Linked DNA regions of Homo sapiens. The protein of the gene in region 1 interacts with the protein of each later gene in a biochemical or structural test. Each region holds a gene or a part of one and is shown on either strand. Other genes may lie near its edges.

Region 1 (3,821 bases):
TATTTTACATATAATTATATACTGTATATATAGAAGCAAGCATATGGAAAGTAATACATATATATATATATATATATATATATATATATATATAAAATCATTTATTCAACAAATACTTAACAGTGCCAAGCTCTGTCCTAATTACTTGCCATACAGCAGTGGACAATATAAAGATAGAGCCTCCCCTCTAGAGTAGAGAGAAGACAGTCAAGTAAAGTATAGTGTATCATATAGTGACAGGCGCTATGGAGTGATACCAGGTAAAGAGGGGAGAGATTTCTGTGAGGGAGAAGTTACTATTTTATGTAAGTTGATTAGAGAAGGCTTCGGTGTGAATGGCATTTGAACAAAGACTTGCCGGAGGTAAGGTAGCAGCCATATAGCTGTATGGGGAAAAGCTGTGATCCAAAGGTAACCATGGGCACAAAAGCCTGAAGACTATAGGGTTCCTGTCATGTTAACAGAAGAGCAAGGAGGCCAGTGGTGCTGGAGCAGAGTGAGTGAGGGGGAAGTTGTAGGAGATAAGATTAGAGAGATAGCAGAGGGTTGCATCTTATAGGGAGATTATAAAATTATACTTCTGTGTTGAGACTCGACTATCAAAGATTAAGGGGGGTAGGATTAGGAGGCTATACCAATGAAGTTCATGTAGTAGTCCATTTATAAACAAGGAAAAGGAAATGCTAAATGGAAAGTAATGTGTATGGATACTAGTCCAGTGCTAAATCTTAACTAATTGCTTAGACTTGCTTTAAAAATGTCTCTGAAGCTTTTTAGTTACTATGGGATATGCAGTCCATTGTTTGTTCTTTTAAGAAAGTATTTAGATTGTTCAAAATCTTAGCTAGAAACAATACGAATACAATTTTGGGAATTTGGGCAATTTACAAAAATTTCAGATTTGCTGTATTAGCCCCATTTAAGCTTCTTAGAATTAGGTCCTTGTCTTTTGGACTGTGGCTGATTTTTTTACTTAACTAAAGAAAAAAATAGAAGTGAAAGGATTTGTTATTTTGAGAGAGTATAGTTTATTTCAGAAGTGATGGTTGCCTGTTTTAAGTCTGCGGGCTCAAGGCATGTTATCTTTCAAGTTGTTCAATATCAAAATAGATGAGCCAAAAAGAAGGGAACAGTGTGCTTAAGGTTTAAAAACGTAATGTTGAAGTTGTTGGTTTTAGTTACTTTACTTTTCTATTTTACAGGGTTGGTTTTTGTTTTCCATTTTGTGGGTCTAAAATTTCTTGTAAGGCTATAAGATGTACAGTGTACCCGTATAAAATTAGGATTGACTTATAGAGGGGAAATTTATTTGGTTTATTAAGATCCTTTCAGATGGATTTTATACCTGCTTCTCTATACTAGCCAAGTCTGTCTGAGTGAAGTGGTAATGTTATCTTTAATTTACATTTTAAAACTTTTACATAGTTAAATTTTAATAAAAAATCTGTTCTTGCCTTGGGAACTACCATAGATACGTTTTCTTCAGGGTACATTGAGCGAATTCCCCAAATTGTATTCGTATTGTTTTATTTCATTTCCCTGTTCCCTTACCCAGGTTGTCTTATGAGTTCAATATCATGTTTCTGTTCGTAAGTTCAGATTTTGTCTGTAGTCTTCACCCCTTTATAGTCTCTCAACTATCAGGTGAAAGTGGAACATTTCTTACCTCTTAATACTTTCTGCCTCCTCCCATTCTCCAGACAAATATTGTCCTTTAATATAGCCAAAATGAACAAAGGGTTTGCAGTTCAGAGATGTGACTATGTACATGTATTTTCTAGTTGTTTCTCAGAAATCATACCTTCTCTTCCCACAGCACTATTTTCCCCTTTTCAAGCTTATAAGAGGGCCTAGGAGGGTTGCTTTAAAGGCTGTGGTATGATTCCAAACTGGAACAAGCCAGCTGGAAAGTTAAGTTAGGAAGACTGTAGAGGTGGAATAAAGGGTTGGCAAAATAGATGAGCCAGAAAGAAGGGAACAGTGTGCTTAAGGTTTAAAAAACAGCAACAAAAAATAACTGCTCTCATTCAGCTAGTTTTTCAGCATCTGCATTCTCCCAACCTCACTGAAATTTGGTTCTGAGGAGCTCTGCTTTCTAGAATACGGTTTCTTAACATCAGCACTATTGACATTCTTGGCCAGTTATTTGTTTTGGGAGATGCCCTATGCAACGTGAGATATTTAGCAGCATGCCTGGCCCCTACCCACTAGATGCCAGTTGCTTCCCCTAGTTTTGACTACTAAAAATGTCTCCAAGGTTTGCCAGATGACCACTGGGGGCAAAATCTACACCCTGTTGAGAACTACTGCTGTAGAAGAAGGCTATTTGAATGTCCTAGCTGGCAGCTTGCGTAAATATTACATCAATTATGCTTTTTTTCAATAAGTGAATCCTGGAAATGAAAGACCTTTGTGTGAAATTTGGCACTTTGGGTGGTGGAACCTTGATAGGTCCTGTGACTTAGGTTTGATCTATACTTAAGAATCAAGGTCCCTGAACCTCTGTGCCACACATGTCTACAACTTTACACAGGCAGATATCTCCAGGAATAAATACATCTCAGCTCTCATGCTGCATGCGTATTATACTTTTTGTGGCATTATCCTTTCAAAATTATAGTCAGTGGACATTCAGTCAGGTTATCATGGTAATTAATGGGTTGGGAAGTTGACGTACAGAGTGTCTTACCCTGTAACCTTTATAATACCCCCCCTCAGATCCTATGTGGATAGTAATAGATTCGTTTTATTCAGCTTCAGTTCATGTGGTATCTGAAGATCATTTCAGTCATTCAATAGATTTAACATTCCAAGCTTAGAATAGCCAGGTGCTGTGTTTTATGAGAATCACCATACATCATTTTCAAGCCAAGTGTTCCATAGGCAAGTAAGTGATTATGAACTTTGTAACAATAATTCCTTTGGCTGTTCAGATCTGAAGATTGAAGTTATATGTAACTTGCTACTGTGTAACCATATATCCAACTGCAGATTTTCATTATTAATACCGATTCCCTGCACAGTTACAGGCTCTTGCTTTCTTGTCCATATGCCGACCAAATAATTGAATCAATGGAAGTCGAAAATTGGATTGTATTAGACTAGCCAAAGTGTTTAGCAGCAGCATCAGGTTCCATACTTAACACTATTATTTTAATTTTTTAAGCTTTATGTTATACCACAAAAGGACTTAGGTGAGTGTGTTAAGGCTTTAAACAAAGTGGTAAGAGATACAAACAGCAAGGGTCTTAATAGACAGGTGTTTGAGGTTAATTTTTAGCACACCTTCATTCAACTTGAATTGTTGAGCAATCAAAAAGACAGATGCTTGGTAATGATTTTAGAATGGTAGATTTAAAAAACATAGAGATTATTCGAATGATATGGTTTTTAAATAAAGCAGTTATCAGTAATTCAGTTAATAAAAGCTAGTTAAAGCAGGAATTGTAAAACGTGGTCCTTTTTTCCACCAATTTTTTGATATAGTGCTCAGGACTTTTCTTTGAATATACGTATACTGACTGTCGTTCCCATTATTTAGGATAAACTATACCGTTGTGCTGCATCATATGCAGAACTGAAATTGTTAATTGAAGACTTGAGATTAGAGCTTAGAAACATGTGAAGCAAGTGAGAAATCCTAATGTTTTATGCTCCTTTTTCCCATCTTTTGAAGCTTTCCTCTTTATAGCTGATATGACAGCTTTTTTTTCTGATCAAGTCTTTCCAAAGCATTCGACTTGGTTTTGCACCCTTATTTTGTCATTTACATAATACATTATTAGACTAATGAATACTACTGGTACTAACAGGTTTCGGAA
Region 2 (3,381 bases), on another chromosome or scaffold:
ATTGGCTACTGCAATATTTCTTTCATATGTGAATTATAAAAGTGCCCTTAATGGATGTTTCTTTTCATACAGTTAGGTGTTTATTGTATCATTGTGGGACTGGGAAGGCCAGGCTAGCTGCAGGTTATCACAGGCCCCTTGCAGTACTTCACTGGACCCCATGAGTCCTTTTCAGTGGATCATCTCCTGCCCATCTTCACTTCTCCAGAGTGGTCTCGCCATCTTTACTGGGTGTCCCAGAACGTGCCTGTTCAGAGCGATGAGACCCAGGGCAGAAAGAGTCCGGTTACCCTTTCCCGGTCTCCTCACCCTAACTCCCTGGATCTTATCACAGTAAATGATCAGAAGTAGAAATTCTCATGTTAGCTGAAATTCTCTTCATGTTTTTTCTTGTGTTCAGACCTCGTTATTTTTAAGCATCCCTGTTACTGATGATAACCACTGTGAACTCAGTGATATGATTCCCTAGTTTGTAAGACACTGCACCCCCTCTGTATTTAAAAGTTATTTCCCATTGGAGGTATCATCAAAGACTTCTCTCCCTTTCTAAAATCTTGGTGTTAGCAGCTAGAAGAGAGACTGCCAGTTTCCCCCGTCAGCCCTACTTTATGACTTAATGCATGGCACCACTTGTGCAGCTGACGCCTGGTCGGGCCACACTTTCCATTATGAACATGCTCTTTCCTGACTTCCCTCACATTCGTTGAAGTCCAGTCCCAGCTCAGTTGCTGGCCGCAGCTGCTCGTATTGTAGAAAGTGGCATGAATAAAAAAGAAGGGCTTCTGACATTGGGGTGAAACTTTGTCACTGAAGAGATCTTTTCAATCCAAGAAGAGGACCCCAGCCAGCTTCACCGAAGCTGGAAAAAGCTGCAACCTTCTTTTGCCCCTGTTGAGATATTGGAACCCCCACTGGTTGGCTTCCCTCTGCCCTTCAGCTGCCCACCTGAGATTTCTCACCTAGGCAGAGCCACAGCACAGCACAGAGAAACTCAGTTTCCAGGGACTTTGGCAGGGATGTTGGTGCTGTGGGAGGATTCAGACCCCATCTCAGCCACTTGCTAGCTCTGTACATCTGGTCATATTACCCCACTTCTCTCAATCTGTTCTTGCATCTGTAAAATGGGGTAGTGTTACCACCTTGGTGGGCTTTTAATGAAGATTATATGAATTAAATGCCCGCTGTATTGCCAACAAAGAATCCAGCATGGTGTTCAGTGAGGAATACTGTGCATGGCTACAGTTTAACTCCTGTGAAATAAATAGATAGATGCTGGAGGCAGGGAGGTGCTTCCTCCGCGCCCCCATGATGTTTCTGTGGTTTCACTTTCCCATGCTGGGCACTGCCCTCCCTAGACAAGACCTGTCTGTGGACTCTTTCCAGCGCAGCTGTTTAGCCAGACGCTGGCCCCGTCTGCAGCCGTCACAGGCCCTCTGTCTGTCTGCTGGTCATGTCATGCTCTCCTCAAGGTGCCGTCCTGGTCCTGCTGTTCATATTGTTTTGTTCTTTCCCACCAGGAAGCATCTCGAAGAACAGCCCTGCCACACTCTTTGAAGTTCCTGACACATGGTAACCAAGACCTGAGGGCAGCAAACCGCTGGTGCTGTCGCTGTGAGCAAGAGCCGGCTGGCACATTTGGAAGCCGCACTGTATTTAACTTAATCAAATGTGGTATGGGAGGGGTTGGAAACCAAGTTGTCTCCTGGGGGGGAGAAAACAGGTTTTATTTTTGTGGCTGTGGTTTTTTCCCCTTTTTAATCTAACTGCCTGTTGACATTGACACTCATCACGGTTGTAGGCTGTCATGAATGTGTACGTGCTTAACCAGTGAATTCCGTGTTGCTCTTGTGAGGCCTTTCCTGTCATGACCCAGTGTGCTTAAGAACCTGCCTGATGGGGAGTGTCGGCTGTGAAATCTGCAAAAAGAGCTGACATTCCAGCTGCTGTGATCATGAATTTGGGGGTGTACTGTCCTGCCTGTGCATCTTCTCGCACTGAGATTTTGAGGCAGTTGCAGCCCTCGGTTAGTCTCCCAGTGGAAAAATCGGTTGTGCCTCCCTGCTTCCCACCATAGCTGCCTGAAAACATGACGCTCTCAAGCTTGTCCTTCCTTCAGGAAGATGTCCACTCATGCCCACCCATGAGAGGGCTTGCCGTATGCCCTGGCCTTTGGGCATATTTATGTAGAGTTCCTTTCTCCTAAGACGTGAGTTTCTCATGGGGGATGTACGAGTAAAAAGGTTAACTTCTGTTCTTATGCGTGGCGCTGTGTTCACTTTCCAGAGTCTCTGTTCGTTTGTTTGGATGGCGGTCTCGGGGTACGGCAGCGTGTGTGCGTACGTGTCTGTGTGTGTGTGTGTGTGTGTGTGTGTGTGTGTGTGTGTGTGTGTGTGAAATCGTGCAAATCTACAACATGTCCCAGCCCATTCTCCGTTGAAACAGATCACAGCAACGACAAACGCTCATGGCGCTGCTTTGCTCCACCCGCTTCAGATAGATCATTGTTAGATATTTCACATTTTTGTATGGTGGAAATAAAAATGAAAAATGTATTTCCAAAAGATGAAAATTAAAAACATTTTCATAGGACTCTGGTTTTCTCCTCTCTTTTTTTTTAATAAGTGAATGATGTTTTCGCTCTCTAGTAATACACAGATAAATTTCACACTCCTAAAAAAATCTGCTAAGCCACTAAGGCTGATGTTCATGGATTTTTTTCTTCTTCTTTTTACCCCTAACTGCTATACCTGCCACGATGGATCGGCTCCTCAGTACCGAGCTGAGCCCTGGTGGTAAGTGGCCTTGTAGGAGGGTGGGAGGAATGAGGACCCTTAGCACTCACACTGGAATCCCAGGGTGTTATGCAGATTCCGATTTGTAAGACAGTTTCCCTAATCAAGAGCCTCTGTCACACCTGTAAGCTGAGACGGGAGGATCACTTGAGCCCAGGAGTTCAAGACCAGCATGGACAACGCAGTGAGACCCTGTCTTTAAAAAAAAAAAAAAAAAAATTTTTTTTTTTTTTTTTTTTAAAGCATGTTAACTTCTCTTCCCCCTTCCTGCTCCTCTCCCTTCCTACAAAACTCCCTGGAGTTTTGTAGCCACAAAGTTAGAAACCCAGGCTTGGCAGGAAGGACTGCCCACCCCTCCTAGAGTAGTCAGCACACACGGCTCAGTGGAAAGTGTGAAGGTAGGATGGAGACAGACAGTAAAGGAGGGTGTATGCAGGAATGTGTAGAGAGGGCTGCCGGACTGCCGAGTCAGCAGCACTCACGGAGAAATGAGGAGAGTCTGACCCTTGATTTTGAAAGAAAAAGAGGGGGCCCAGCGCAGTGTCTCACGTCTATAATCCCAACACATCGGGAGGCCAAGACAGGAGGA

The links.
Region 2: the proteins of NCBP1 (region 1) and PARN form a complex in vitro, tested with the Homo sapiens proteins (one study listed by IntAct).

Annotation. Positions count from the first base shown.
Region 1 is NC_000009.12:97,636,581-97,640,401, forward strand, and holds part of NCBP1 (nuclear cap-binding protein subunit 1), read left to right. Parts: intron 1-3,821. UniProt on the Homo sapiens protein: Component of the cap-binding complex (CBC), which binds cotranscriptionally to the 5'-cap of pre-mRNAs and is involved in various processes such as pre-mRNA splicing, translation regulation, nonsense-mediated mRNA decay, RNA-mediated gene silencing (RNAi) by microRNAs (miRNAs) and mRNA export.
Region 2 is NC_000016.10:14,434,909-14,438,289, reverse strand, and holds the end of PARN (poly(A)-specific ribonuclease PARN), read left to right. Parts: intron 1-1,517; coding exon 1,518-1,573; 3' UTR 1,574-2,589; downstream 2,590-3,381. UniProt on the Homo sapiens protein: 3'-exoribonuclease that has a preference for poly(A) tails of mRNAs, thereby efficiently degrading poly(A) tails.